Linked DNA regions of Homo sapiens: all the other regions are linked to region 1. The links come from fine-mapping of genetic effects on gene expression. A gene starts in region 1. Each other region holds a variant in brackets. All regions are shown on one strand. Distances are from middle to middle.

Region 1 (6,904 bases):
CTGACCCACGATGAATGACAAATATACAACTCACCTTTGCAAGGTTGGGAAGGGGTAGAATGCAGGGTAGAATGAGGAGCCAGAGTTTCAGCATGGTGTTGACAGAGATCAGTAGCTTTGGATGACATATCTGGAGTCTAAGGATATCTTCAAAGTCTGAGGCTATCTAAACTGTCTTCTACAAGAAGCAATTCAACTGGGACCATTGGAGATTCCTACCTGTAGGTCTCCACATAGAGGAAAGACACAGTCTCATAGTAAATAATCATAATAACAATAGCATCATCATCAATAAGAGCAATGGTTTTCCAGAGGCTGAGCAGCTGGGGAGATGGAGAGTTGCTGTTCAATGGGTATACAATTTCAGTTATGCAAGATGAATAAGTTCTAGAAATCTGTGTACAATATGGTACATATAGTTAACAATACTATTTTGTGCACTTAAAAATTTGTTGGCCGGGCGCGGTGTATAAAGCACTTTGGGAGGCCAAGGCAGGTGGATCATGAGGTCAGGAGACTGAGACCATCCTGGCCAACATGGTGAAACCCCATCTCTACTAAAAACACAAAAATTAGCTGGGTGTGGTGGCATGCGCCTGTAGTCCCAGCTACTTGGGAGGCTGAGTCAGGAGAATCCCTTGAACCTGGGAGGCAGAGGCTGTAGTGAGCGGAGATCGTGCCACTATCCTCCAGTCTGGTGACAGAGCGAGACTCCGTTTAAAAAAATTTTTTTTGTTAAGCAGGGCCCAGTGCAGTGACTCATGCCTGTAATGCCAGTGCTTTGGGAGGCTGAGGCAGGAGGATCGCTTGAGGCCAGGAGTTTGAAACCAGCCTGGACAACATAGCAAGACCCTATCTCTACAAAAAATTTTAAAAACCACTCAGGCATGGTGGCTTGCGCCTGTAGTCCTAGCTATTCAGGAGGCTGAGATGGGAGGATTGCTTGAGCCCAGGAGTTTAAGCTAACAGTGAGCTATGATTGGGTCTCTGCACTCCAGGCTGAGCGACAGAGACCCTGTCTCAAGGAAAAAATAAATAAATAAAAGGGCTTTATCTGTTAGAGATAAAAATAGATGAAGAAAATATGGACAAATGTTAACAATTCCTAAGTCCTGGTGATGAATATATGGAAGCTCAATGTCCTGTTCTCTCTGCTTTTCTGTATGTTTTAAATATTCCATCTGGGCATGGGGTGGCTCATGCCTGTAATCCCAGCACTTTGAGAGGCCAAGACAGGAGGATTGTTTGAGCCCAGGAGTTTGAAACCAGCCTGGGAAACATGATGAGACCCTATCTCTTAAAAAAAAAAATTAGCCAGGCATGGTGGCTCATGCCTCTAGTTCCAGCTACTTAGGAGGCTGAGGTAAGAGGATTGCTTAAGCCAAGGAGTTCACGATTGCAGTGAGCACTGATCATACCATTGCACTCAAGCCTGGGTGACAAGGCAAGATCCTGCCTCAAAAATCCTAAGTAAAAATAAAAATAAATTTGCCCCAGTGAAAGTTTAAAAATGAAAAAGAATGAAAACAATGATTTATTTTTATTGAGCATCTACCATGGACTAGGTACTTTACTTACACAATCTTTTATATAAATATTTTTCTTTCTTTCTTTATGGCCAGCTCTTACTCATACTTGTATAATCTTATTTGTTTTCTTTTTTGTAGAGATTTTTAAAACTTTTTATTTAGAAATAATTATAGTTTCACAGGAAGTTGCATTAATAGTACAGAGAGGTCCTGTACGCCCTTTACCAACTTCCACTAAAGGTTAAATCTAACATAACTATATTCAATATCAAAGCCAGATAATTTATATTGGTACAATGTGTGTGTGTAGTAGTTCTATGACTTTTTTTTTCTTTCTTTTTTTTTTTTAGACCGAGTCTTGCTCTGTCGCCCAAGCTGGAGTGCAGTGGCACAATCTCGGCTCACTGCAACTTCTGCCTCCCGCCTCCCGGGTTCAAGCGATTCTCCTGTCTCGCCCTCCTGAGTAGCTGGGACTATAGGCGCATGCCACCACACCCGGCTGATTTTTTTTATTTTAGTAGAGACGGGGTTTCACCATGTTAACCAGGATGGTCTCGATCTCCTGACCTCGTGATCCACCCGCCTCGGCCTCCCAAAGTGTTGGGATTACAGGTGTGAGCCACCGCGCCTGGCTTTTTTTTTTTTTTTGAGACGGAGTCTCACTCTGTCGCCTGGGCTGGAGTGCAGTGGCACGATCTCGGCTCACTGCAACCTCCACCTCCCGGGTTCAAACGATTCTCCTGCCTCAGGCTCCTGAGTAGCTGGGGTTACAGGTGCCCGCCACTACCCCCAGCTAATTTTTTGTATTTTTAGTAGAGACGGAGTTTCACCAACAAGGCTGGTCTCGAACTCCTACCTTGTGATTCGCTCGCCTGGGCCTCCCACAGTGCTGGGATTACAGGCGTGAGCCACCGCACCCTGCCAGTTCTATGACATCTTATCACCTGTGTAGATTCTTGTAACCACCACCACAATCAGGATACAGAATTATCCATCAACACAAAGATCTCTCTTGTGCTACCCTTTACAGGTACACTTCTATCTCCCCATCAACCCTAACACTAGACAATCAGAAATCTCTTCTCCATCTCTATAATTTTGTGATTTTGAGAATGTTACTTAAATGAAATCATACAGTATGCAACCTTTCATAAGGCCCAGTAGATATTGCAAGATTCCTCTTGTAAGAAACCATCTCCTTTTCCCACGCAGTTTCTTAACTTTCCATAATGTTTCTTTTTTGCGGGGAGTGGGGGGTCGGAGTTTCACTCTTGTTGCCCAGGCTGGAGTGCAATGGTGCGATCTTGGCTCACTGCAACCTCTGCCTCCCGGGTTCAAGTGTTTCTCCTGCCTTAGCCTCCTGCTTAGCCTCTTGAGTAGCTGGGATTACAAGCACCCGTCACCACACCGGGCTACTTTTTTGTATTTTTAGTAGAGATGGGGTTTCACCAAGTTGGCCAGGCTGGTCTCGAACTCCTGACCTCAGGTGATCCACCCACCTCAGCCTCCCAAAGTGCTGGGATTACAGGCGTGAGCCACTGCACCCGGCCAATGTTGACTATATTTTCAAAGGCAAAAACCAAGGCAAGATATGTCCATCTGTACAAGAGTATCATAGCAGCATTATTGCATAATAGGCAAAAACTGGAAACAATCCAAACATCCACCAACGGGAGAATGGATAGATGAATTGTGGCATACTCATACAATCAAACACTAGACAGCAATAAAACAGAAGGAATAACAGATGCACACAACAATATGGAGGAAATCTTACAGGTACATTGAGCTAAAGAAGTCAGGCACAAAATAGAAAATAATGTATAATTCCATTTACACGAAGTTCAAGAACAAGGAAAACTAATTGATGGTGATAGAGGTCAGAATAGTGGTTAACTTCGAGAGGGGGTATTGATGGGGAAGGAACACAAGATAACTTTTTGGGGTGCAGGAAGTATTTTATATCTTGATCTGGATGGCGGTTATACAAATGTACATATATAGATACATATATATTTAATTAAGCTTAACATTCGTGTATTTTATGCACTTTATGAATGTTATACCCCAATCTTTAAAAATCAGGGCACAAGTTTGGCAAAGATGAGTCTTCAAAGCAGTAGAAAGGTCAATTGTTTAAAATTAGGATGGTCTTGGACAATTAGGGAAGCTTATGATGACCACACAGAAAATGTCTAGCCCACCTTTTCCAATGGGCAATGTGCCCTTGCGTCATTAATTTACATCTTGTAAATTTATTTTACCAGGAAATTGTGTGACAAATCAAGGGACTGAGTATTGTTTCCTTGTTTCCTTCTTTTTAGTGGGGAATGAGTGAATGGTGCAGTTTGAAGAACACATTAAGTCTTGAAAGTTGGAAAGTTCACCAGTACCCTTCTTTCCCTCACCCAAGATTAGCCCTGGTGGCAGCCGAAATTGCTTTTATTATCTCTTTGTGGCTGAGGACCTCTAACTGTTGAAGAAAACATATTTTACACGTCTTGTCTTTCTGCGAACAGGAAGCCTATCTCGCTTATCTTTGCAACCCCAGACGGGGCTTAGTGTGACCTACACACAGCAGTAATCGCACAACGTCCCGTGGAGCACTGCTTCTCAAATTTGGCTGTACATACGAATCACCTGGGGAATTTTAAATTGTATTGCTGCCTGAGGAATTTTAAACTGTACTCCCAGAGATTCTGATTTAATTGAAATGAGGTGAGTCCTGGGCACTGGGATGTTTAAAAACGTTCCAGGTGATTTTAACGCGAAACAAAAACAGAACCGCTGTTTGGGGGCGTTCTTCCTTCTCCACGCCTGATTTGCGCACAGGAGTCGGCTGTCTGGAACGGGGGTGAGGTTCACAGGTGTCTGTCGCCACGCCTCTTCCTACAGAACCAATAAACTGAAGCCGCTCGGTGACATCCCAAAGGACTTGAATTCTGATCGGGCTGCAGACGCTCTGCACCCCGCCCAAGCTTCTATGGTACTTTGGTGTCCTCTCTAGCACTGGCAAGTCGCCTTCCTCTTCGCCCGGCGCCAGCCGCTCCCTCTCTATGATCGCCGAGTTCCCGGCGCCGTCTCGTTGGTATTTAATTCCGGAAGCGAGTTTGAATCAAAGAAGAGGCGGGACTTTCCTCCCGGAAGTAACCCACGTGCTTCCGCTGGAGCCTCTCGGGAGGCGGGTAACGTTATAGTATTTGTCAGAAGTTGGGGTCTCCGTGGGCATTGTGATCCGTCCCAGGCAGTGGTAAGTGACACATGACCTCTGAATTCAATGTGGCCCTGATGATGGCGTCGCCATTTCAGAGGTGTAGCCTTTGGGCTGGGTCCCGGTCGCCTCTGTTCAGCGTATGATCCCATTCCCAGGGCCCTGGAGGTTCAGGTTCGTGGGTTAGAGAGTTCTCCTCCGGTCCTCGATCTCCTGAATAGAGGTGACCTCCAGGAACTGGGGCATCAGAGATCCGGGGCTCGATTTCCAGGCTCGCCATAGACGTCCTGTGCGACCTTGGGCTAGGCCTCAGTTTCCACATCCGTGAAATGGGGTGGTTAAGCTCACTGAGGTTAGTGGCCCGTGGTGGTCTGGCGCCCTGTGAGTCCTCTGTATCCTCTAGCCCCAGGGGTAGGAGAGTGAACGGCGGCGGTGGGTGCTGATGGTGATGTCTGCTCCCAGGATTAGGAGGCCAGAAGGAGATCCCTTCCACGGTGCTAGGCTGAGATGGATCCTCTCAGGGCCCAACAGCTGGCTGCGGAGCTGGAGGTGGAGATGATGGCCGATATGTACAACAGGTAAAGAGAACTATGTGCTACCCTGTCTTGGAAAATAAGTCTTGGTCACCCTTATCGAAGGTGAATGACTTATGACAAATTCCTTCCTGAATGTAGGGGAGCCTGAGGCCCATGCTTACCCTCCCCACACCCACCTTCAAGGTTGATCCTAATGTAGATGCAGTAAAGGGTCACTAGAATGAGTTGGGCATTTAGATGGGGATGGAACTGGCAATGCAGGAGCCAAGCAGGAAGAGAAACTCCAATCCAGGCTCTGGTTAGGTTCCAAGAAAAGCTGAGTATTTGCCTCTTGACAAATAGCACATAGCCAGCCCATTTAGTAGTTAACATTTTAAAACCCTTTATTCTGTGTCAGGCACTTGTTAATCTTCAAAATAATCCAGTGGGTTAATTTTATTAGTCCCGTCTTAAAATGAGGAAATTGATGATTCTAGAGGTTAAGTAACTTCCTTAGGGTCGGCAGCTGGTCAGTAACAATGCCAGAACTAGCACCTCAGTCTGATTCTGCAACTAGTGCTCATAACCATTTGGCAAATTTGGGAACAAATCCTGGCTCCACCAATCACCAGCAGTATAATTGGACATGTTACTTGCACTGTTTGACAATTGGTTTCCTCATTATGAAGAAGACATAATGATACCTACCTCATAGGACATCATAAATATTAAATCTAAAAATATATGAAAGCCCTTAGCCTCAAGCCCAACACTTAGTGAAATGTCTGCTATTTTTATTGGCTTAAGCTCTCTTGATTGGTTGGTTTATCCTGAAGGCTATAAATTAGAAGGATTTTTAAGTGTAGACTGTGAGGTCAGATGACCTGGCTTCATAACCCAGCTCTGTGTGATCCTTAGAAAATTACTGAGCCTCTGTTTGCCTTAATTTCCTCATCTGTAAAATGGGGATACATGTCTCTTAGGGTTATTGTAAGCATTGCATAACAGAATGCAGGTAAAGCACTTAGCAGGATGCCTGGCATGTAGCCAGTCCTCAACAAATGGTTTCTACTTAGTTAGTCATATACATGGACTTAGACAAGTTTCCTACTTGCAAGGACCTTCCAGTGGTTGAGGTGTAAACTGAGGATTTACACTGCTTTCTTGGGGGAGGTGAAATCAATATAGCAGGGCTGGAATGGTCAAGGTTCCTGGGATGTCACAGGATGCTGCTGACATGACCTTGCCCCTCCCTCCCTCCAGAATGACCAGTGCCTGCCACCGGAAGTGTGTGCCTCCTCACTACAAGGAAGCAGAGCTCTCCAAGGGCGAGTCTGTGTGCCTGGACCGATGTGTCTCTAAGTACCTGGACATCCATGAGCGGATGGGCAAAAAGTTGACAGAGTTGTCTATGCAGGATGAAGAGCTGATGAAGAGGGTGCAGCAGAGCTCTGGGCCTGCATGAGGTCCCTGTCAGTATACACCCTGGGGTGTACCCCACCCCTTCCCACTTTAATAAACGTGCTCCCTGTTGGGTGTCATCTGTGAAGACTGCCAGGCCTAGGCTCTCTGTAGAGAGTCTTCAAGATCCCGGAGTGGTAGCGCTGTCTCCTGGTGAAGGAGTATTTGTCACACTGGAATGTGACTGT
Region 2 (8,079 bases), 27 kb before region 1:
TGTGGTTTTGGATAACATCAGGAAGAATTCTCTGGATTACCAGGTAGAGACTCTCATTTTCTTCCCTTACTTTCTCCCAAACAAATGGAGTCTTACTCTCCGTGCTGAGCTCCCTGGAGCTGGGTGAGGTGTGACACAAGCATCCCCATGGTCACCAGAATTGGGACTGCACTGGGTCAGGCCTGAAGCCAGCACAAGACTGGGTTTTGCTCAAGGCCCGCTGTAATCACTACCTGGCTATGCCCTACGTTCGCTCAAGGCCCTAGGGCTCTGCAATCAGCAGGTGGTGAAGCCAGCCAGGCTTGTGTTCTTCCCCTTAGGGTGGTTAGTTCACTGCTGGGCCCCAGAGAGGTCCACAGTTGCTGTCCATGGGCCAGGGCCTGGAGTCGGAAACCTTAGAAATCTCTCTAGTGCTCTGTGCTACTGCAGCTAAGCTGGCACTGAAACCACAGGACACAGTCCTTCCCACTCTTCCCTCCCTTTTCCCCAGATATAGGAGTCTCTCCCCTTGTCCACCACCACCACGGGTCTATGAGGAGTACTGCCAGGGTACTACTGCTGATGTTCGCCTAAGGCCCAAAGGCCCTTCAGTCAGCTTGTGGTGAATGTGACCAGGCCTGAGACTCACCCTGCAGGGCAGCGGTCTCCCCTCTTGTTCGGCCAGATAATTCTTTGTTAGGATGTTTATCAGCATCTCTGGCCTCTATCCACTCTCCCGATTTATGACAACGGAACAATGTTCCCAGATATTACCGAATGTCCCTGGCTGGGTAAAATCGCCCCTGGTTGAGAACCACTGGTTTGTACCAATTCATTGTTCCAGAGAAATGTGACCTGCCCTTGAGTGTCTTTATCTTCCCCAACAAGAAAAGGCCTGTAGTCCCACAAGATGGACTCTAAAAGAGGGGCAGCATTCCTTTGTCAAATACATTTGAGAAGTACTGCATGCTGTGGGCCCACAGCTTGGTCAATCACCATACACAATAGCATATTAAAGGCTGTGGGAAGTTCTCCAGTGAAGAAACCTCTTTAGCCGAGATTTACCAAATGTACTTGACCTTGGAACCCTTTTCCTGTACTACCTATTAACCTTCTGCAGGACATACTGTACTTATGTTTCCCATCTGGGCCCTCTGCCCTGGTGCTTCTCCCCTTCTCTGCTTTATGGATTCCTGTTCATTCTGCATGGCCCAGCTCACAGAGTGCACCCTCTGTGAAACCTTCCTTCTCCCCTCTCATCTCCTTCCTTACCGTATATCCATACACATTCACATAATCACATCCATGTTTCGTCCATTACTCTATTGAAATTCTTGAGGACTGGGTCCTGTCTCAGTTAAATGTCAGTAGAAGATGCTCAGTAATGGCTGTTGGGAGAATTCAGAAGGGATATTCAGGTGTTTGGGCCACAGTTTTGGGAAGATGAGTCACTCCTTGCCCCCTTGTTTCCCCACTTGGTGTGTAGAGTTCTTCTCTGCTATGGTCTTCCGGAGTCATTTCCCTTCTCCAGCCCTGATCTGGCAGAGTTTGAAGCGGTGGGGTCATGTCTTTGCTGCAGATGCTCAGTCGATGCTTACGGAAGGAAGAAAGGAAGAGAGGAAGGGAATTAGAACCTAGTGACTTTCTAGGAAGAAGGCTAGAGAGCAGAGGTTAAGTACCCTGCTTTCAGGAGAAAAGCCTCCTAAGAGCACTTACTCCCAAGTTTTAATATCTGGGAGAAGTGATCTATTTTTCCCTGCACCTAGTACCTAGGTGTACCAGAGTTGTGGTGAGGCCACAGTCAGAAAATTCACTTAAAGCACCAGCACCGGCTGGGCGCGGTAGCTCACGTCTGTAATCCCAGCACTTTGGGAGGCTGAGGCGGGCGGATCACGAGGTCAGGAGATCAAGACCATCCTGGATAACACGGTGAAACCCCGTCTCTACTAAAAATACAAAAAATTAGCGGGGCGTGGTGGCGGGCGTCTGTAGTCCCAGCTACTCGGGAGGCTGAGGCAGGAGAATGGCGTGAACCCAGGAGGCGGAGCTTGCAGGGAGCCGAGATTGCGCCACTGCATTCCAGCCTGGGCAACAGAGCGAGACTCTGTCTCAAAAAAAAAAAAAAAGAAAAAAGAAAAAGCACCAGCACCATGCCTGATACATACTAAGTGCTCAGTAAATGTAGGCTCTGACTTTACCGGCTTCTGCCCCTAAGATGGCCAGTTTTGAACTTGGGGCAGCTTGCTGCTGGGGCAGGGGGAGGGGGCTGAAATAAGGAGGACTAGGCCAACTGCCCACTCACTTGTGTCCCCTGCAGGAGCTGGAGGATCTTCAGAAGAAGCCTCCCCCATACCTGCGGAACCTGTCCAGCGATGATGCCAATGTCCTGGTGTGGCACGCTCTCCTCCTACCCGTGAGTATCCATGGGGACCATGGCTTTGGATTGGGGCCAAATTAGGCCAGGGACATGGGCAGGGAGGGTTAGGACTAGGCAAGAATTTTCCCTGCTTGAGATCCTTTTACTGGAGGTTATCATTGCTGGAGGGGGCTTCTCTCTGAATTGATTGCTTCTGAGATCCAGATACTTCTGAGGTTCACCTTCTGATAAAGATGCCAAAGGACTTTTGACTTAGTAGGAGACCCCTTCCTTAAACCGGTAGCCACCAAGCCCACCACAGAACTTCAGGAGACAAACAGCATCAAAAAGAAGAAGAAATAAAGATTTCTTGGACCTTTGTCAAGGGGTAGGGATAAACTTCCAGGCTCTCACAGTTGGGAGAATTTGCTCCCGCAAACCTAAATTGTATTTTGTTTTTCTGTAGTCTTATTTCAGAAAATTGTTACATATGAAAACACAAATAGCTCATTTCTACTGTTCTTATTTTTCTCTGTTTATTATTTGGTATTTTCTTGATAAAGTCTCTCTGAAAGCAGTATTCCAAAATAGTTTTCAGAGTGCAAGATCTCTCTTTTTTTCATCCGATTATTAGTGACTAAAGATACTTTGAGAAATTAATCTACACTTTTCATTACTTGGAAATAAAATTTAAGACATTGAACTTTTTGTTAGTCAAAGCTCTTTGGAATATCAAAGGAACAATTCATCTTATCATTTAGGATTTGGACTTGTTTTTTTTTTTGAGACAGAGTCTTACTGTGTCACCCAGGCTGGAGTGCAGTGATGCGATGTTCGTTTCCTGCAACCTCCACTCTGGGGTTCAAGCGATTCTCCTGCCTCAGCCTCCTGAGTAGCTGTGACTACAGGCACGTGCCACTATGCCTGGCTAATTTTTGTGTTTTTAGTGGAGACAGGATTTTGCTATGTTGGCCAGGCTGGTCTCAAACTCCTGGCCTCAAGTGATCTGCCCACCTCGGCCTCCTAAAGTGCTGGGATTACAGGTGGAGCCACCACACCCGGCAGGATTTACTTTTTATTGACAATGCAGTGGCCTAGGTTGTGTCGTCTTCTCTTTAAACTGACCTATAGTCCAGAAAAGTAGAGAAAGGCCTGAGTCAGGTCAACATGGGAACCTCTGTCAAGTCCCTTGGGTTACTGTGTTGAAACGATCCACTTACCTGGCTTAGAGTGAGGACACCTGTTCTAGGCCTCAGGTGCCGGGAGAAGATGCTCAAAGGAGCTCCAGGGACTGATTATATCTCCAAGGAGACCAACTTTGAGATGATGAAAGCAGGGGTGATAGGAAAACCTAGGAAAGGTCTCGTTTGGCAGAGTACTATGAAATCAGAGGACCTCAATAGTTGGCAAGACCAAGGTGGTTAAGTGCGCCCCAGGAACTGGCCACAGACCTTCCAGCCATATAGGAGTCCTGAAGAAACATGATACTTGGGAGGAATCCCAGAGCTGGAGGACCAAAGCTTGATGTAAGTCATCAGCTAAGGGGGCCTGAAGGTGCCTGGTGAGGCCATAAAGGAGGGGATGGTTGACTGGCAGAGGAAGGAGAACCAGGAAAGGTCTTTTGGAATAGCACACAAATTCCTCCTCAAAGGCTCAGTCTCAGTTTATGTGTTCACCAAAGTGGCCCCACTTGTCACATCTTGGTCATGGAAGGATTCAGCTCGATGAGTCTTTCGAAGCTAATAGTAAAATTCTCATTCCTTGAGAGTTTCCTGTGGACCAAGTGCTGTTTTAAGCACACGACATATGAGGTCATATTGAATCCTCTCAACCATCCAGTGAGGAAGGTTGTCTTCCTCTTAAAATTGCAGAGATGGAAACCAAGGAGGTTAAGTAACTGGTCTGGGGTCACTCAGAATAAGGTGGCAGGAGTGGAATTCAGCGGACTCCAGGGTCTTCTCTTTTAACCACTCCATGAAAAATGAATAGTTTTCAAAATTTTTTAAAAAGTAGCAGGCCGGGCACGGTGGCTTACACCTGTAATCCCAGCACTTTGAGAGGCTGAGGTGGGTGGATCACTGGAGGTCAGAAGTTTGAGACCAGCCTGGCCAACATGGTGAAACCCTGTCTCTAGTAAAAATACAAAAATTAGCTGGGCATGGTTGTGGGCACCTATAATCCCAGCTACTCAGGAGGCTGAGGCACGAGAATCACTTGAACCCGGGAGTTGGAGGTTGTAGTGAGCTGAGATTGGGCCATCGCACTCCAGCCTGGATGACAAGAGCAAAACTCTGTCTCAAAAAAACAAAACAAAATAAAGTAGCAAAATCCTTTATTTAACCTAGAACTTAGAAGGTAGTGGGACTTTCTCAACTGACTGTAAGATACAGCATGGAATCCTCTGGTCCAGCTTCTCCATTTTACAGACGAGGAAACTGATCCTCAGAGAAAGCTCAGTCATACAGCAAGCCC[G/A]AGGCAGAGCTGGGACAGGTCCCCGGAGCTCTCAGCTCCATGACTCTGCTACCTCCTTCCTCTGTTAAGTCCTACGAAGCCCAGAAAGAAGCCCCTTCAGGCAGGACACACTGATACCCCTGTCTTAGTCCATTAGTGTTGCTGTAAAGGAATACCCGAGGCTGAGTAATATATAAAGAAAAGAGGTTAATTTGGCTCAAGCTTCTGCAGGCTGTACAAGAAGCATGGCGCTGGGCATGGTGGCTCACGTCTATAATCCCATGTCTTTGGGAGGCCGAGGAGGGCGGATCACCTGAGGTCAGAAGTTCAAGACCAGCCTGACCAACATGGAGAAACCCTGTCTCTACCAAAAATACAAAATTAGCTGGGTGTGGTGGTGCATGCCTATAATCCCAACTAGTTGGGAGGCTGAGGCAGGAGAATCGCTTGAACCTAGGAGGCAGAGGTTGCGGTGAGCCGAGATCACGCCATTGCACTCCAGCCTGGGCAGCAAAGTGAAACTCCATCTCAAAAAAAAAAAAAAAAAGAAGCATGGCACCAGCATCTCCTTCTGATGAGGCCTCAGGAAGCTTCCACTCATGGTGGAAGGCAAAGGGGAGCCACGTGTACAGATCACATGCAAGAGAAGAAGTGAAAGAGAGAGAGAGCGAGCAGGTGCCAGGATCTTCTAAACAACCAGCTTTTTCAGTAAGTAATAGAGTAAGAACTCTCTTATGACTGTGAGGTTGGCACGGAGCCATTCCACGGAGCCATTCGTGGGAGGTCTGCCCCCAGGACCCATACGCCTCCTGGTAGGCCCCACCTCCAACATTGGGGATCAAATTCTTTTCTTTTCTTTCCTTTTTTTTTTTTTTGGTGACAGAGTCTCACTCTGGAGTGCAGAGCAAGACTCACTGCAACCTCTGCCTCCTGGATTCAAGCAATTCTCATGCCTCAGCCTCCTGAGTAGCTGGGACTACAGGCACATGCTACCACGCCCAGCTACCTTTTTGTATTTTAGTGGAGGCGGGGTTTTATCATGTTGCCCAGGCTGATCTCAAACTCCTGAGCCCAGGCAATCCATCTGCCTCAGCCTCCCAAAGTGCTAGGATTACAGGCGCGAGCCACCGCCACGTAGGTCTTGGGGATCAAATTTCAACCTGAGATTTGAGGAGACAAAACATCCAACCACAGCACCCTCCCATCCTGCTCTGAGGCCTCAGCTGTTGGCCTTCTCTGACTGATAGGCACAGCCTTTTCTCCTTACTGAGACCATAAAAAATGAGATATTTTCTTTATCTTCCTACTTTTTTTTACTCCATCTCTCTTTTTTTTTTTTTTTTTTTTTTTGAGACGGAGTTTTGCTCTTGTTGCCCAGGCTGGAGTGCAAGGGTGTGATCTCTGCTCACCACAACGTCAGCCTCCCAGGTTCAACTTCTGCCTCTCGGTTCTTGCCTCAGCCTCCCGTGTAGCGGATATTACAGGCATGCACCACCACACCCGGCTAATTTTGCATTTTTAACAGAGACAGGGTTTCTCCATGTTGGTCAGGTTTGTCTTGAACTCCCGACCTCAGGGGATCTGCCCACTTTGGACTCCCAAAGTGCTGGGATTACAAACGTGAGCCATCGTGCCCGGCCTAGTTAGATCACATGGCTAGTGAGTGTCAGAGCCGAATCACACCCAGGCAGGGTGGCTCCAAGTGCTGGGATTACAAACGTGAGGCACCGCACCTGACCTAGTTAGATCACATGGCTAGTGAGTGTCAGAGTTGAATCACACCCAGGCAGGGTGGCTCCGGAGTCTGTGTGACCCCCATACTCTGTTGCACAGGCTAATGCATGTCAAACCCTTAGCACAGGACAGCACAGACAGGTGCTCAGAAAAGTGTTCAGGTGGCTCAAAGTCTAGAGGGTCTTCTGCTGGCTCCTTGCAGCTCCCAACCCCTAGGTCACTCCAGCCCCTGAGTTTGTTTGTTTTTAATCATAGTAAAATACACATAACAAAATTTACTATCTTAACCATTTTTAAGTATATAGTTCAGTGTCATTAAATAGGATTAAATAGGATTACAGCTGGGCATGGTGGCTCACGCTCGTAATCCCAGTAATCTGGAGGCCAGAGCAAAAGGATTGCTCAAGTCCAGGAGTTCAAGACCAGCCCTGGCACAGTGAGACCCTATCAAAAAAATTTTTTTAATTAGCCAGATATGGTGGTGGGCCCCTGTAGTACCAGCTACTCAGGAGGCTGAGGTGGGAGGATCACTTGAGCCCAGAAGTTTGAGATTACAGTGAGCAATGATAATGCCAGTGCACTCCAGCCTGGGTGACAGAGCGAGACCCTGCTTCAGTAAACAAACAAACACACATTGTTGCACAACCATCACCACCGTTCATCTCTAGAACTTTTTGTCTACCTGTACTGAAACTCTGTACCCCTTCAGTAACTCCCCATTCCTTTCTTTCCCCAGCACCTGGTGACCACTTTTGTATTTTGTTTCTATGAATTTGACTATTCTGGGTACTGCACATAAGTGGTATCTTGCAAATCTGTCCTTTTTTTGTCTAGCTTATTTCCTGTAGCATAGTGTCTTCAAGGTTCATCCGTGTTGTAGCATATATCAGAATTTCATTCCTTTTAAGGCTAAATAATACTCCATTGTGTGTATATGCCACGTTTTGTTGATTGATCCATTGATAGACACTTGGTTTGCTTTCACCTTTTGGCTGCTAGAAACATTGGTATACAAATACCTGTTTGCTTTCAGTTCTTTGGGTGTCTACCCAGAAGTAGAACTGCTGGATCATATGGTAATTCTGTGTCTAATCTTTTGAGAAATGGCCATACTGTTTTCCATCACAGCTGCACCATTTTATTTTCCTAAGCTCCTGAGTTCTTAGGATTTCCTCATTTTCTCCATTTCCTCACCCCCATTCTAATGTTTTAAGAAAGGATGTTCCATCCTTTTCTTCCATAATCTCAGAAAGTCTTGAAAGCTGAGATGGTCCTTAGAGCTCATCTAGTCCATCTTTATCCACTTTTCAAATGAGGAAACTGAGGCCTAGAGGTGGGAAGTGGCTCACCCGTGGTCACACAGCAAAAGCCAGGATCAGACTTCTCTGCCTCCCAGGCCAGTGCCCTTTGGTGATTTCACATTTTCACTAATCCATGACTCAATTGTCAAATGAATGCAGGTGCTGTGTGTGTCCTGGCTCATGATTCCTCCTGGGAGTGAAGCAGAGGATGCCTAGGACCCTCGGATTGGGGCAGGAAGGGAGGAAAACCAGACTGGA
Region 3 (8,808 bases), 100 kb before region 1:
AAGTGGCTTTTTAATTTTATTTCATTTTAATTACTTTCATACAGCCACATGAGGCTAGTGGCTACTATATTAAACGGTCTAGAAAATCTTTGTGGTGTTGCTAATAAGAATAAAATTCTATGACCCTTTTTTTTTTTTTTTTTTGGAGACAAGGTCTTGATGTGTTGCCCAAGTTCAGTGGCGCCATCACAGCTCACTGCAGTCTAGACCTCTTGGGCTCAAGTGATTTTCCTGCCTCAGTCTCCCAAGTAGCTGAGACTTCAGGTACGTGCCATCACATCCAACTAATTTTTTTTTTTTTTTTTTTTAAGAAAGACTTGCTATGTTGCCCAGGCTGGTGTTGAACTCCTGGGCTCAAGCAATCCTCCCACCTTGGCCTCCCAAAGTGCTGGGATTACAGGCATGAGCCACCCCACCTACTGGCCCATTTTATGATCCTTTTCTTTTTTTGAGACAGAGTCTGGTTTTGTTGCCCAGGCTGGAGTGCAGTGGCGCGATCTGCAACCTCTGCCTCCTGGGTTCAAGTGATTCTCCTGCCTCAGCCTCCTAAGTAGCTGGGATTACAGGTGTGCACCACCAGGCCTGGCTAATTTTGTATTTTTAGTAGAGATGGGGTTTCACCATGTTGGTCAGGCTGGTCTCAAACTACTGACCTCGTGATCTGACCACCTTGGCCTCCCAAAATGCTGGGATTACAGGTGTGAGCCACCACGCCCGGCCATGAGACACCGCGCCCAGTTCATTCTATGATTCTTGCTGGGGGAAAAAAAAAACCCTTTCTTTTCATCCTCAGGCATGAATTCCTACAGGTTCAAATCACAAATCATAAAGGGCATCAATTCCCCGGAAATGAGGTTCAAATTCCTGTCACCTTTGTCAGGAATCCTTTCCTTATGAATGTCAACCACTTCTCTGAGAAGGGAGCTGAGATACACCCACCCCACTACACAATGAAAGATTGTGGCTAAAAGGGAATTTGCAGGTTTGTCCAACCTTGTTTTTTCAAAAATAGAAACCAAGACGTTGACGGGGTGGGGATAGGGGCTGTCACTTGCCCAAGGACAGTCAGAACAGCAGGTTGATGTGTTCGCTCATGAGTTAACGTGCACCTGTAAACTTAGTCCATCTCTTTGGGGCTCCTGCGGGAGCACACACATACATGTACATCATTAACTTCATTCAAGAGATGTGCTTCTCTGACCTTGGCCAAATGAGAGCCGAGATTTAAGGGCCAGATGGGTCCTCCAATTGACATGTGGAAATCCAGAGCTCCTGGGTATGCCAGGATTACAAGAAGATGGACAGCCCAGAGCCCACTCCCTGAATATGGTTGAAGGACCCCCTTGTGGCATTGCCACCATGAGAAGAGGAAGCTGAGGGGCGGGAGAAGAAGGACTCTGAGTTTATCCTTGGACTGACCAAGAGACAGAATTAGCTGGGGGTTTTGGAGGATAAGGAGGGCAGGGTGCCCAGGATTTTGGTAGCTACAGGCTATGACTTGTGCATATAGGGCCCTAACCTAACAGAGAGACAACTGCTGCAGGGAGTTGATAAAGGAGATGGCTGCACTGGCCTGAGCTTATACAGTGTTTGTCCAGTCTTGCTTCTGGAGAGCCTTTGCCTGGGTAATGTGCATGAGGGGAAACACAGAGCTTCCTGGGAAATGGCTGCTATCTTGAATATTTCCTTACTACTAGGAGACATTGCTAAATGACTGCTCTGGTGAGAGATATAAGGAGTTCAGAGAAAAGAAGGATTGCTCCCAATGGGGAATGGAATCCAAGAAGGCTTCCTGGAGGAAGCAGCATCTGAGACTTGAAGAATAGAAAGTATTTAGACACAAGAAGATGGGAGAAAGGAAGACAAGGAAATGCCAAGGAGAGAGAACAACACAAAGGCTGAGAGGTGGGGAAATGGTGGGATTGGCTGGAGATTCAGTGGGAACCTGGGGTGTCTGAAGGGGAATAGAAAGGAAGAAAAGGCAGCTGGGACAGATCATGGAGGGCTTGGACACATCTCTCCAGCCTCTACTCTGCTCCAAAGACATCATTTTCCTTGAACATACTTTTATCTTTTCCTCACCAAGACAAACCCCGCAACTATTCATTCAGCTGCCCCAGGGCCTCCATGCTCAGCTCTCTGCCTCTTCTGCCTTAGTCTACGGGCCCGTCTGTTGTCCACAAACATCCTTCCCTGGGCAAAATGGGCTCCAATTGCTCAGTAGAGAATGGACTCTCATTGGTGTCTCTCAGTTCAGTCTCCTATCTCTGGATTCCCAGTGTGTAGGTATGAGCTGCATGAAGGACCCTCCTTTTTCACTCACCACCTTCCAAACCCCCACGTGGCCCCACCCCTTCTCAGGAGAGTCAGAAATGGAGGCCAGGAACAGCTAGACGTGGTCCAACCTGTTACAGGAGTGTAAAAAATGCACCCAGGAGCTACTTGGCTCCTAGCCACCCTACCCCACCTCCACATTCTTCACTCCTCTTATGGGAGTTTCAGAATGCACCTGGGCTTTGCAGGAACCTCCCTTTCCCACCACCCCCACAGCAATCCAAGACTATTCTGGAGGTGCTTCCTTTGCCTCCCTCCCTAACCTCCATTGTCATATACAGATATGGGTCCCTCCATGCCTATTTGGGTAAATCGTGTAGAAAAAAAGGATTGCTCCCAATGGAGAATGGAATCCACGAAGGCTTCCTGGAGGAAGCAGCATCTGAGTCTTGAAGAATAGAAAGTATCACGTAGAATACTATAAATGTGAGACAGGGAGACCATCTGCCCTAAACCTTTGCCTCTTGGAAGGACTGAATCTGAAACGCTGGAGAGAGTTGCCTCCTTGCTTAAACATCAGTGGAGGTAGGTAACTCAACTGCTAATAACACATGGCTTTTTTTTTTTTTTTTTTTTTTTTTTTTTTGAGACAGAGTCCTGCTCTGTCACCCAGGCTGAAGTGCAGTGGTGCCATCATGGCTCACTGCAGCCTTGACCTCCAGAGATCAAGCAACACTCCTGCTGCAGCCAACTAGATGGGACTACAGGCACATGCTACCACACCTAGCTAATTTTTGTATTTTTTGTAGAGACAGGGTCTCCTTATGTTGCCCAGGCTGGTCTCAAACCCCTTGAGATAGGGGATAGGTGATGGCTATCCCTATAGGGGATAGGGGATGGCTCAAGCCATCCCCTTGCCTCAGGCTCCCAAAGTGCTGGGATTATAGGTGTGAGCCACCATGTCTGGCTAACACAGCTCCTAGTTCACTTGAGATGATGATAGAGGCTTTTCCATATGAGCCTCTTTCATTTCCCCTCCTTCCACAGTAAGGTGCCTCTTCACCTTTACCATCCTGCTTCTCTCAAATGCTGCTGTGTCTGAGCACTGCCTGTATGCAAGGCTCTGGAACCATCGCTGGGAAACACTGCCAGCCCGGAAAGTGCTCACAGTTGAGGAGAATGCAAGGCAGACACATAAAGAGGAAGTCACGGCCGACTGCAGTGGCTCACGCCTGTAATCCCAGCACTTTGGGAAGCCGAGGATCACCTGAGGTTAGGAGTTCAAGACCAGTCTGACCAACATGGTGAAACCCCATCTCTACTAAAAATACAAAAATTAGCTGTGCCTGGTGGCACGTGCCTATAATCCCAGCTACTCTGGAGAATCGCTTGAACCCAGGAGGTGGAGGTTGCGGTGAGTTAAGATCGCACCATTGCTCTCCAACCTGGGCAACAAGAACGAAACTCCCTCTCAAAAAAAAAAAAAAAAAAAAAAAGAGAAAGTCACACAGGTGCCCAGGTAGACGTAAGTGCCTTCTTTCTGAGGTAAACCTCTTTCCTTGAGGTCTAGCTCTCATCCTTTACTCCATCAATTGCCCCATTTATTGCATCTCTAATCCCTTTCCATAAACCTAGGGCAAGGGTCAGCCAACTACAGCCCACAGGGCTAAATTCTGCCTCTGCCTGTTTTTTGGTAAATGAAGTTTATTGGAACACAGCCATGCTCACTTGTTTACACATCGTCTATGGCTGCTTTCTACAACCACGACAATGGCAGAGTTGAGTGGTTGCGACAGAGACCATACGACCAACAAAAGCCTGGCATATTTACTGCCCAGCTCTTCACAATAGAAGTTTGCCAACTCCTAAATTTATGGGCAGTTTTAGACCTTGCCATCTCAGAAAGATGTAATAGAACTCAAGAAACGCAACTGAAATTACTCCGAGATGGGAGTGGAAGGGCGAAGCCCAGACTTTTCATCTCAGTCTATACATATGCTCAAGTCTTCCCTCAACCTGTCGTGAAGCTTCTCGAAATGCTAGTCAGCTTTCTATATTATCTCTCCTTCATGGCTCACTCGTTCGTTTTTTTTTGTTTGTTTGTTTGTTTGTTTGTTTGTTTTGAGATAGAGTCTTACTCCAGGCTGGAGTGCAGTGGTGTGATCTCAGCTCACTGCAACCTCTGCCTCCTGGATCCAAGTGATTCTCCTGCCTCAGCCTCCTGAGTAGCTGGGATTATAGGTGCCCACCATCATACCCAGCTAATTTTTGTATTTTTAGTAGAGTTGGGGTTTCACCATGTTGGCCAGGCTGCTCTAAACTCCTGACCTAAAGTGATCCTCCCACCTCTGCCTCCCAAAGTGCTGGGATTACAGGTGTGAGCCACCACATCCAGCCCATGTCTCTCTCATTCTTAAATCTGCGCAATCTGACTTCTGCCCCCCAATTTCCACTGAAATGTTTCCTACTAGGATGCCAATGACTTCCTTATTACTGATCCACAATTCTCCTCTCAATTCTCATCACATGCATCTTCTCTTTAGCACTTGCCAGTACTGACTATATCAGTCTTGAAATGCCCATGACTTCTGGCAGACTGGCCTCTCCTGGATTCCCTCCTACCTCTCCAACTGTTCCTTCTCAGCTCCCTTCCTGTGAGTCCTCTTTACTCCCCTGTTGCCTAAATATACAGATTCTGTGTGGATTAGTCCTTGGTCTTCTTTTCCATCTATACTCTCTCGGTGAACAAAATCATCCACATGCCTGATTTCAACAGTCACTCATATAGACCCAGATTTCTAACAGAAGGTTGCAATTCCTCAGATGTATGTCTTACCAGCCAACTAA[G/C]CTGAATTTGGGCAACATCAAACATATGTCTTCCTACACCTCTGCCTTCACCTAATCACCTTTGTCTCTTTTTCCATCTGCCCCTTAATTGTTGCCATTCCTGAGAGATCTGTCCTTGACTCTCCTCTCTTTGGGGGAAATTTCATCCATTCTTACAGTTTTAACAATCACCCATACATGAATCACTGCCAAATCTATATCTCTAGTTGTATTGCCAGCTCCTTACATTCCCAAATAGATGTGTGAGGTGAGCAGCTGGTGCTTTTGCCTGCCCAGATATTCCATCCCCCTTCTGGTAACTACATCTTAGTTTTCCTTTGGGAAGACACCTATTCTCTGACCTCAGACCACATGGTTCACATGAGACTGGCCTCATCTGCCCCTTCAGGGACAGTCACACAATCCAGATATATTAGTTGTCTATTGCTGCATAACAAATTAGTCCAAAACGTAGTAGCTTAAAACAACACACATTTATTTTCTCTGTTTCTGTGGTTCAGGAATCTGGGCAGAGGTTAGCTGGGTCCCCTGATCATGGTCTCTCATGAGGCTGCAATCAAAGTATCATCCAGGGGTTGGGGTCTAATCTGAAGATTCAATGGGGATCAGATCTGCTTCCAAGCTCAGTTTCATAGTTTTTTGGGAAGATCCAGTTCCTCAAGGGCTGTTGGAATGTGGACCTCCGTTCTTTGCTGTTGGCTGGAGGCCATGCTAGGTTCCTTGCAATGTGGGCCTCTCCAACATGAAAGCTTGCATTGTCAAAGCCGGCAAGAGAGAGAGAGTCCACTAGCAGGATGAAGTCACAATATTTTGTAACCTAATCACAGAAGTGACAACCTCTCCACATTGCCATATTCTACTGGTTAGAAGTAAGTTACTCAAGAGGAGAGGATTACACAAAGGCATGATTACTAGGAGGTAGGATCACTGGGGGCTGTCTTAGAGGCTATCACCCACACCAGACTTAGCCAATTAAGTCATAATAATTGGATCAAGGATATCCAATCAGAGTCAATCACAATTAGGCCTAAGATGTTTGCTGTAATCTTTGGGAAAGTGGTATTGCCATCCCTGTTACGCTGGTAGACAAAGCTTGAAACTGCTGATGGCCATAACTGCTGCCGAATGGGGGAAGATCTGCCTAAAATGCCAACATAACAGAGCAAAGCAGAGGCAAGAGATGGAGAGAGACAGGTGCCTGGGAACCTGCTAGAGGCATGTCTACAGGTGAACCTCTTGAGTTTTTATTTATTTTATTTTATTTTTTATTTTTGAGACAGAGTTTTGCTCTTGTTGCCCAGGCTGGAGTACAGTGGCGCGATCTCGGCTCACTGCAAGCGCCGCCTCCCAGGTTCATGCCGTTCTCCTGCCTCAGCCTCCCGAGTAGCTGGGACTACAGGCGCCTGCCACCACCCCCAGCTAATTTTTTTGTATTTTTAGTAGAGACAGGGTTTCACTGTGTTAGCCAGATGGTCTCAATCTCCTGACCTCATGGTCCGCCTCCCTCGGCCTCCCAAAGTGCTGGGATTACAGGCATGAGCCACTGTGCCTGGCCCTCTTGAGTTTTTAATTATGTAAACCACAACATTTCCTCTTCTCCTTATGTTAGTCTCAGTTGGCTTCTGTCACTCATAACCAAAAAAATTCCTGACTGATAAAATGTCACAGAGATGTCTTGGATGCAGTTTGCCCAAACCCAGTTTCATTGTCTTACCTTCACCTTCCCCATCCCCACAAACCTGCTTTTCTTCTTAGATTCTATTTCACAGTTAAAAGCCTACCACAGTTGTTTAGGCTGAAAACCATCACAGGATCATCTTTACCCTTCCTCATTGGCTGCGCCAGTAAGGAGGAGTAGCCCATGCAACATGGGTTGCAGATTGGAGTGTCCCATGAAACATGATCTTAAATACTGATAAACAAGTTACTCTAGGCTATTAGAATCTTACAGAATTTCTGGCTGTGGAGTCACATGATTTAGAGGATAGTAGTGTATCTGACTCTCCTATCTGAATACACCACGTACTAAAATGAAATTCTGAGAAACTGCCTGATGACCTTGTGGATCAGAAGACACCTGGGGTTTGATTTGTGAAACTTTCTATCTCCAGGCAGATTAAAAGAATTTGTGTTTCAAAGTCAATCAAAATTTCTTTTACATCTTTTATCTTAGGGTTGCAATCATAATTCTAATCCTTACTTCTCTTACTCTCTGCCACCTTCACCCAAATTGCCCTAAATCCTGTGCATTCTACCTCTTAGATGACTCCTTTTCTCTCCATTCCCCTGCCCCTTGAGGGTTTGTGTCATCCTCTGAATAACTTTCCTTTCAAGTCCCATTCCATCAGCGTGTAAGTCTAAAACACAAACCTCAGATCATTCGTGTGTCCCGAATTATGATGGCTCTCTAGTATTTATTTATTTTAATTTATTTTATTTTTTGAGACAGGGTCTCACTCTGTTGCCCAGGCTGGAGTGCAGTGATGCAATCTCAGCTCACCGCAACTTCTGCCTCCCGGGTTCAAGCGATTCTCCTGCCTCAGCCTCTGGAGTAGCTGGGACTATAGGCGCTTGCCACCACACCCAGCTAATTTTTGTATTTTTAGTGGAGATGGGATTTCGCCATGTTGGCCAGGCTGGTCTCCAACTCCTGACCTCAAGTGATCCGCCCTCTTCGGCCTCCCGAAGTGCTGGGATTACAGGTGTGAGTGACCACACCTGGCCTAATTTTTGTATTTTTTTAGTAGAGACAGGGTTTTGCCATGTTGGCCAGGCTGGTCTCGAACTCCTGGCCTCAGGTGATTTGCCCTCCTCAGCCTCCCAAAGTGCTGGGATTACAGGTGTGAGCCACCATGCCTGGCCCCTAGTATTTAGATAATGCTTCCTAAACATTATTGGATCACGGACACTTAAAAAAAAAAAGCTGATGAAACCTATGGGTGACTCTTTCTAGAAAAATGTTTTTTGTTTTTTTTTTGTATTACGGTATTGATATGGTTTGGCTCCCTGTCCCCATTGAAATCTCATGTTGAATTATAATTCCCAGTGTTGGGGGAGGAACCTGGTGGGAGGAGATTGGATCATGGGGGTGGATTTCCCCCTTGCTGTTCTGGTGATAGTGATTGAGTTCTCACAAGATCTGATGGTTTAAACTTGTGTAGCCTTTCTCCCCTTGCTCTCTCTCTCTCCTGCCACCATGTGAAGAAGGAGCTTGTTTCCCCTTCGACTTCTGCCATCATTGTACATTAACTAAGGCCTCACAGTCATGCTTCCTGTTAAGCCTGTAAAACTGTGAGTCAATTAAACCTCTTTTCTTCATAAATTACCGAGTCTTATGTAGTTCTTTATGGCAATGTGAGAATGGACTAATACAGGTATACATCTCAAGGGGATCGTGAACCCTCTGGAGTTCATTCACATACCACTGCCCCCAACACACGCTCTAATCTCCTCCAGGTCAGAACTTCTTCAAGAGGATACATTCCAAACTTCTTAGCATGGAACTCAAGGCCTTCCAAACTTATTCCGAGTTGCCTGTCTAGCTGCACCTACCACCTGTGCTGTTATGATTATTTTGTGTCTAATTCCTCATCAGACCAAGATGCTCCCTGAGAGCAGAGATTGTGCCCTTTCATTTTTCCTTTTTACATTTCCCCAGATCAAATGAAAGTTTCTCAGGAGGAGTAA

The links. PIP is the estimated chance that this variant, and not a neighbour inherited with it, causes the effect.
Region 2: its variant is the best candidate, but not a certain one, in a credible set for the expression of TIMM10 in whole blood (TOPMed, PIP 0.60).
Region 3: its variant is the best candidate, but not a certain one, in a credible set for the expression of TIMM10 in whole blood (TOPMed, PIP 0.61).

What each region holds. Positions count from the first base shown.
Region 1 is chr11:57,528,533-57,535,436 of GRCh38, reverse strand. TIMM10 (translocase of inner mitochondrial membrane 10) reads left to right here and starts at 4,683. Exons shown (of 3, transcript NM_012456.3): 1 at 4,683-4,779; 2 at 5,203-5,318; 3 at 6,519-6,904. The coding sequence starts at 5,248. The coding sequence ends at 6,720. RefSeq lists an enhancer at 4,504-4,683.
Region 2 is chr11:57,554,650-57,562,728 of GRCh38, reverse strand. It overlaps UBE2L6 (ubiquitin conjugating enzyme E2 L6), which reads left to right. Exons shown (of 4, transcript NM_004223.5): 2 at 2,297-2,392. Among named protein-coding and RNA genes, the nearest start is that of UBE2L6, 9.0 kb to the left of the region's middle. The variant G/A (reference allele first, on the strand shown) is at 4,808.
Region 3 is chr11:57,627,489-57,636,296 of GRCh38, reverse strand. No RefSeq gene overlaps it. Among named protein-coding and RNA genes, the nearest start is that of MIR130AHG, 6.5 kb to the left of the region's middle. The variant G/C (reference allele first, on the strand shown) is at 5,122.